Homo sapiens: one gene and its partner. The protein of the gene in region 1 interacts with the protein of each later gene in a biochemical or structural test. Each region holds a gene or a part of one and is shown in the gene's direction. Other genes may lie near its edges.

Region 1 (3,500 bases):
TGGTACTCAGTTTAAGAAGGCAGGTTTATGTGTAGCATTTCAGAAAGACTTTTATTTAGCATGGTTAATTTTTTTGTTAATTTCATATTTTGAAGTAATTTCAAACTTAAATCAGTTGGGTCTCAAAAAAAAATCAGTTGGAATAATACGAAGAACTCTCCTATATCCTTTATCTAAGTTATTAACATTTTTCAGCTTTTGCTTTATCATTCACACACACACCCATCTATGCATACATTTTTTTTTTGGTAGGAATGCCACAGAGGTGATACCGTATCTTACTCAGTGCATCTATCAGGAGACACATGCTGGTTTGACCTATTACAAGTTGATTTTTAAGATCACTTGGTTAAGGTGGAGTCTGCCAGGTTTCTCAATGCTAAGGTTAATATTTTTACCTTTGTAATTAATTTGTGCTTTCAAGGAATATGCTTTGAGACTGTGTAAATATCCTGTTTCTCATCAAACTTTTATCCACTAGTTTTAATATCTATTGATGATTCTTTCCTCAGTCAGTTATTACTACAATGGTTGCCAAATGGTGATTAACATTCTATTGTAAGGAAGGTTTTCCTTCTCTCTTATTTATTTATTAATTTATTTTTAGATCAGTGTGGACTAATGGATTCTTTTTTTTTCCATGACTGTAATCCATTAGTAGGGGTATTATGATGCTCGTATTGTCTTAGATTTGCCTCATGGGTGGGAGCTCCTTCAAGCTGGCTCCTTTGTCCCTCTGGTATGTCCCCACCATTCTTTGAGCACCTCCTTTCTTCTTGGCATACTAATATATGCTGAGCTCAATTTGTATTCTGTGCCAGCCCTGGAATCAGCCATTTCTTCAAGGAACCCTGGAGAATGGTATTTAGGAACTAGGATCCGGGTTCTCAGAGTGTTCATTGCTGCTATTATGTCATTGCTTTCGTAGCCAATAGTATCAGGAAATAGATGTATGTATGTGTGTGTATGTGTTTGTTGTGTACATACATATACACATACATACGTGCATATATATGCACAACAAATTGCACAGATACACCTGTCTCTATGTCTGTGAAAACCATGAATTTGGCTTCCAGCAAAGGCAGATTAACATTTACCCTTCCATGTGAAACAATGAAAACAATGACAAAACATATGAAGCAATGGTTTTCAGACACCAAAGGGCAGTGATCTCTTGAGAGATGGGAAACAAATGAACTGAGCTCTCCAGTTGCCCTGCCCTACTGCCTTGAGAGAATTTTCGTGCTGTAACAGAAAGAGGGAGAACCCAGATGGGAGTCCAGGCAGACCCTCTGTTGAAAAGGCAGAGCTGAGCATCAGGGGAGGCCAGGGTGGCTGGCATTCACATGCAAGAGACGATAGCGGAGACAGCTCTGCACAGGGAGAGAACCCCACAGGTCTGCAGAGTCTCCACTGGCACTCAGCTGAATACTGACCAGCACATTGTGCAAGAAAACTACTTAAGGTCAGTGAAAAGGCCTTTCCTCTTTAACTTTTCGAATTAGAGGAAACATGTCTGGTGCTCACCCATGGCCAGGGATAGTGCCTGTTCCCACCAGCTAAGACTGGAAAAATATTTCATGGGGCATTGGGTATGATACAGAGTAGGGGGTCTTGCCTCTGTAGTAGGGAATGATCAGCCTTAGAGTGAGCACTGCTTCAGCCCTACCTGAGTGTTTACAGGAATATACAAATACCCAACATCCAACAAGATGAAATTCACAATGTCTGGAACCCAATAAAAAATTACTGGCTGGGTGTGGTGGCTCAGCCTGTAATCCCAGTGCTTTGAGAGGCTGAGGTGGGTTGATTGCTTGAGCCTAGGAGTTCAAAACCAGCCTGGGCAACATAGTGAGATCCTATCTCTACAAAAAATAAAAAAAAAAATAGCCGGGTGTGGTAGCATACACCTGTGGTCCCAGCTACTTGCGAGGCTGAGCTGGGAGGATTGCTCGAGCCTGGGAGGTTGAGGCTGTGGTGAGCTGTGATCATGCCACTGCACTCCAGCCTGGGCAGCAGAGCGAGACCCCATGTCAAAAAATAATAAAATGTATAACCCAATTTTTTAAATGGACAAATAATTTGAACAGACTTCACCAAGAAAGATATGTAGATGGCAAATAAATATATGAAACTTGTTAATATTATTAGTTATTAGGGAAATGCCAATTAGAACCATAACGAGATACCACTATACACCCTCTAGAATGGCTAAAATGAAAGAAGACTGACCATACTAAGTGTTGGTAAAGATGTGAAGCAGTTGGGTCTCATACACGCCTGGTGGGAATGTAAAATGGCACAATCACTTTGGAAAACAGTTTGGCAGTTGCATGCGCTTTCCTTGTGATATAGCTTTTTCAGTCCTGGGTGTGTATTTGCCCAAGAGAAATGGAAAAATATGTCCATACGAAGGCTTGTACATGAATATTCGTAGCAGCTTTATTAGTAATAGCCAAAAATGTAGAAATCAAATGTCTACCAACAAGTAAATAGTTAAACTAACCATGGCATATCCATATGATCAAATACTAGTCGACAGGTGGGGCTTGGCTCACGCCTGTAATCCCAGCACTTTGGGAGGCCGAGGTGGGTGAATCACCTGAGGTCAGGAGTTCGAGACCAACCTGGACAACATGGTGAAACTCCATCTCTACAAAAATACAAAAATTAGGCATGATGGTGGGTGTCTGGAATCCCAGCTACTTGGGAAGCTGAGCGGGAGAATCGCTTGAACCTGGGAAGTGGAGGTTGCAGTGAGCCGAGATCACACCATTGTACTCCTGCCTGTGCGACAGAGCAAGACTCCGTCTCAAAAAATATATATACTAATCAACAATAAAAGGAAGTAGAGTATTGATACATGCTACAGCATGGATGACTTTCGGACTAGTAAGATTAGTACATACTCTGATGCCGTTTGCATAAAATTCTAGAAAACACACAGTCATGACAGAAATTGGATTGGTTGTCTGGGCATGGGGTATTTGACGGTGGGATTACAAAGGGACATGAGTTTTGCAGGTGACGGCTATGTTCATTGTCTTGATTGTAGTGATAGTTTCATGGTATGTACATAATGTCACAACTTACCAAATACTGTACTTTAGCAGTTATTGCATATCAGTTACACTCTAATAAGCTCCAAAAAGCAAAATAAGATGAGGGAATACTGTTGTCTCCAATTTCATTTCAGCACCCTAGGGCCCTTTCCATGTTTGTAGCTTCCTTCTTCAAGACCTTCATTCACAACGTACTGAGTTACTTGTCAATCCTAGGATACATGGTAGCTTTTTACAATTTCTGACCTGAACTATGGCAAGAAACAGTTATACTAACTAGAATTCAATATTTGTTTTTATTTATACTAACTAAAGTTCAATATTTGTTTTTATTTCTTTTTGTCTTTAGTCTAAGTTTTTGGTCAAAACACTACTTGAGTCAAAAATAACTTAGTTCTTTTTTCTCACCCTTCATCATATTTTCAGTGTGTGCTA
Region 2 (4,259 bases), on another chromosome or scaffold:
AGGCTCCCCAAAGTGGGAATGTTCTCAGCCACCCGCTGTCCAAATGTGGTGCCCTGGCAGAACGATGGCTTCAGCAGAGGACGTCAGAGAAGGCTCTGGGTCTGGACCACAGGAGGCAGATCCCTAGGAACAGCGTGGAGGCAGTTCTCAGGGGCTAGATCCCGCCAGCCCTTCTGTGTCCTGCCTAAGTTGGGCCTGCTTCCTGTGGCGCAGGGGAGCCCCCGAAGGGTTTTATGGCCAGGCTTGTCCTCTGGATACGTCCCTGACTATAGTTCAGGGAATTCCTGAGGGGCAGATGAGGAGTGTGCGGAAAGGGAGGCCAGTTAGGCTGCCAAAACGTTGCAGGCAGCAAGGCTACTGGCCTGAAGGACGGCAGAAAAGGGAATGTGGAGAAAGCCGCCCCTGTCCAGTCCTGGCCCCCGGGCCCGGGGCTGGCTGCTGCAGCCACCTCCTAAACACACTCTGGAGTTCAGACCTCAGCCCCTCACGAATGCAAATCGACGGGACCCCTGGTCGGCTCTGCCGAAAACTCTGGTAAGGGTAAGGCAGGGCCCTCCGGAAAAGCCAGTCTTCGGCCTGGCACTCAAGGCCCTGCGCACCTTTGGCTCCCCATCTAACTCGCCCCGCTCTTGCTCCCTCTCCTCACTGAGGTCCCTTCCTAGCTTATGTGGCTCCTCCAGCCCCGTTTTTGGCCGCGATCGCTCAGCGCTACAGAGCTTCGCTCCGGTCCGACCCCGCAGGGAGCGGGAGCCGGGACATGTGTCACGTTCCGTGCTGCAGCTTGGGGGCCGGGCGCACCATGGAGGCTCGGGGACTCCTCTTCGTATGGGCAGACAAGGAAAAGCCTGGCTGCCGGTAAACGTGCGCGAGGTGCTTTGGTCCCCCCGTCCCAAGGCCGCCTGCCTCTCGGGGGAAGGCCCGGCCCGCAGCGACGGACCCTGAAAGGCCGGACCCCCGCATCCCTCCTGCCCCCAACACCACCTGCCGTGGGTCAGAGGCTCGCAAGAAAGAAGCCCCGGCTGGGCCGCTACCTGAGCAGCGGGAGAGGCTGGACAGCAGGAGCAGCGCCAGGGCGCCGAGAGATGCCATCGCCGCCATCGCCTCTTCTCTGCCTAGAGGAAAAGAAAACGAGCTCCCATGAACACGAGGGGCAAACGAGGAAGAGCGACGCGTAAGTGGCAGCGGCAGCCAATCGCGCACCGAACGGCTGGGCCGGCATTGTGACGTCTCTGGCAGCACTGACGTGGCCCCTCCCTGAGCCAGGGGCCCAGCTGGTCGCGGTCCCCCCCTCAACATGGCGGCAGCGGTGCTCTAGGCGCCGGAAGGGGGCGTGAATCGGTGCGACCGCGCGCGTGCGCAGTACCGGGTCCGCGCCTGTCCCCGAAACTTCGCACCCCGTCGAACTCTCGCGAGAGCGGTATCTGCGTGTCGGGACGTGCGGAGGCTCTCACTTTCCGTCATGGCGCTGAAGGTAGCGACCGTCGCCGGCAGCGCCGCGAAGGCGGTGCTCGGGCCAGCCCTTCTCTGCCGTCCCTGGGAGGTGAGCAGGGAAAGAGCCACGGGACCGCGGCAGCGGTCGCAGGGGAGCGGTGGGGTAGCCGCACCCGAAGCAGTCTGGAGTCCGATTGGCTAGGGGCCCCACCAGGGGCGGGGAAAGGGCTTCGCGCCGGGGTTGATTGGCCGCCTCCGCTGTCACTGAGGGGATTGGCCGAAGTTGGCCCTGGACCGGCTCCCCCAGGGGGTCTGCATCGGGTGGCGGGGGGCCCTCCGGACGGGCCGGGAGAGTGGGCCACGGCGGCTGTCACCTCCTTAGTGTCCTTGAAGGAGCCCTTCTGAGGCAGTCACTCACGTATCCCGGCCCGCCTTTCTCAAACCGCTTCGGGAATCCGGTTCCGGGACTCAAATTTCTCCACGGTTTCCTCTCTCGTGGACCGCTTTGCCACCTATCCCGGTGGCAAAGAACCGGACTTTGCCAGTCATCCCCCATAGTCCCCCAGTCTTAGAGCCCCAGATGCCTTCCCCTCGAGGCGCCTGGAATGGGAAGGAGCTAGGGTTTCTGAGGCTGCGGGGGTTTTGCTTCTGCTCTTCTCCGTGTGCGGTCTTGCGTATTCAGGTCCGAGTCTTCTTTCCTTACACTTATTTAAGAAGAGGTTAATTTAGGTCCTAGGTGGGCTGGAAACCATCTGAAGCAGCTGCCAGCCAGCACCTGGCCCTGATGGGTAAGAGGTTTGACCTCTAGGCCATGCTCCCACACTGAGCCACTGCGTGGCCTTAGGCCATTTCCTCCTCTCTCTGGGTTCTAGTTTCCCCTTTGGAACCCAGAGGGGAGGAGACTTCATGTTCTCAAAGGATCCTGTCAACTCTGACCTTCCAGAACTCCGTGACTTTGCGGCCACTCCCCAGGGACATCTCTACTTGCCATGTTTTCTCCTTCTGACCTCTGGGGGAGACTGCTTGTGCCTAATGAAATTCTCTTGACGATGCTGACTTCTCCCACCTTGCTGCTGAAAGGACGGCAGTATATAGTGGCTTTCCAGAGGCTCTGATGGCTCCAGCAACTGGGCTCCTGTAGGCTCTTGGTGAAGACATGTGTGCCTCCTCCCTGACCTCCCCTGTGTGTGTGCCTGTGTGTGCGTTGGGGTGGGAGTAGGGGACAGTGAACGGTGGGTAGCTGGGCAGTGCCTTGCCCTGAGACTGACCGTCCTGGGTGTGAGAACCCTTACAGAGGAACCCCAGGTCTTGAATCCCACTGATTTGGACGCCATAGGAAAACATGCAGCCACCATTGACACATGGTCCAACAGAAATATGCCAAAGACAGAAGCCTCAGCAGGCATAAGATGTGGGGTGTGGATGTTCTTTCTTTCCATGGAACCATGAAAGGGTGATGGGAGAGCGGGAGGCGTGTACATATTGCATCCTGCCTCACACTTGGCTCCTTTGATTGGTGGCTTCACAGGGAAGTCAGGGCACAAGGCAGAGCCTTTGCGACCTCCTGAAGGAAGGTGCCTGCATCTGTACAGTAAGGTCAGGGAAGTCCATCTGGAGCGCTCTCTGGGTCTTTTGCCAAAGCCCAAAGGAACACCTGGCACAGGGACCGGGTGGCAGAGAGGTTCAGCTCAGCCCTGGTGGTGATGTTGCCATCTGTGAGGGAGGTCCATGCTCTCAGGAGATTGGCTTGCTGCCACAGCTGAAGCCCAGGAGGAACTACTGCTGGGAGCTGCAGGGGTCCACCCGTGACCTCCCAGGGACACCAGCCTTGAACTCTGACCTGAGGGGCCAGTGGGGTGAAGGGGCAGGCGTGCTGTGTGGCACTAGCTACTGTGAGCAGCTCACACACCTCCTGTCCCCTAATCTTTCCAACAGTCACGGAAAGTAGGTACCTCCGTTCTGTGAATTTCAGATGAGGCCATGAAGCCATCTCAAGAAGAGTGGATGGTGGATTTGGACCGAGGCCTCCCTAGTCTCCAGATCTTTTTTCATTTTCTGATGTGCTTGTTCACTCAGGAAATGTTCCTTATGTGCCAGCTCTGGGCCAGGTACTGTGCTGGGTCCTAGGGTGACAGTATTGGACCACACTGACTTGGCCCCTCCTCTCGGGCTCAGGGGTTGAGGAGGGAGCAATGCAGTGATAACCTAGGGAAGGGGGTAAGTAGGGCCTTAGGGTCCCAGCTCAGTAGCCTTAGGGCATCAGGGAAAGCTCCCTGGAGGAAGGTCCATCGAAGCCGCTTTCTGCGTGCTTACAAGAGCCCCCAAATAAGATGATTTCAGATGTTGATAAGCGCTAGAGAGAAGACAGAAAAGTCCCGACCCGTTGATAAGCGCTAGAGAGAAGACAGAAAAGTCCCGACCGTGCCTGTGCTTGCAGATCCAGGTGCCACACAGATCAGCTGAGCTATCCTCGGGGCTCTGGTCCTTGTGGGCACCCTCTCCTAGCCCCTGGCTTGGACTGATGAGTGCCGGCCAGGGACACACAGACAGGGAGAGGTCAGACTCCGCCCGAGCCTTTCTGGACTTCTAGCTGGAAGGCATGGCTCTTTGGCCAATGGCTATGATGCTTCTGCCATTGGCTGGAACACTTTGCTGCTGCCTGGTGGTCAAGTGGCAGGGCATCCCCAAGTGACAGGGAAGACCTTGGCTCTGCCACCGTCTCAGGTGTGTTCTAGGTGGGGCTTCTTCCAGGACAGCAGGTCACTTGGCACCTGGCACATTTGGCTCAGGCAGCTTTGGCTCTGAAGCTGTCCGGCATTTCCAGTCAG

The links. Proteins that work in one complex are often made in the same cells at the same time.
Region 2: the proteins of ERCC6 (region 1) and IDH3G form a complex in vitro, tested with the Homo sapiens proteins (one large-scale study listed by BioGRID).

What each region holds. Positions count from the first base shown.
Region 1 is NC_000010.11:49,466,122-49,469,621, reverse strand, and holds part of ERCC6 (DNA excision repair protein ERCC-6), read left to right. Parts: intron 1-3,500. UniProt on the Homo sapiens protein: Involved in repair of DNA damage following UV irradiation, acting either in the absence of ERCC6 or synergistically with ERCC6. Involved in the regulation of gene expression.
Region 2 is NC_000023.11:153,791,527-153,795,785, reverse strand, and holds the start of IDH3G (isocitrate dehydrogenase [NAD] subunit gamma, mitochondrial isoform a precursor), read left to right. Parts: upstream 1-1,459; coding exon 1,460-1,540; exon of another isoform or gene 1,541-1,627; intron 1,628-4,259. Other genes in the region: SSR4 (translocon-associated protein subunit delta isoform 4 precursor), read right to left, coding at 1,032-1,112, 1,395-1,461. UniProt on the Homo sapiens protein: Regulatory subunit which plays a role in the allosteric regulation of the enzyme catalyzing the decarboxylation of isocitrate (ICT) into alpha-ketoglutarate.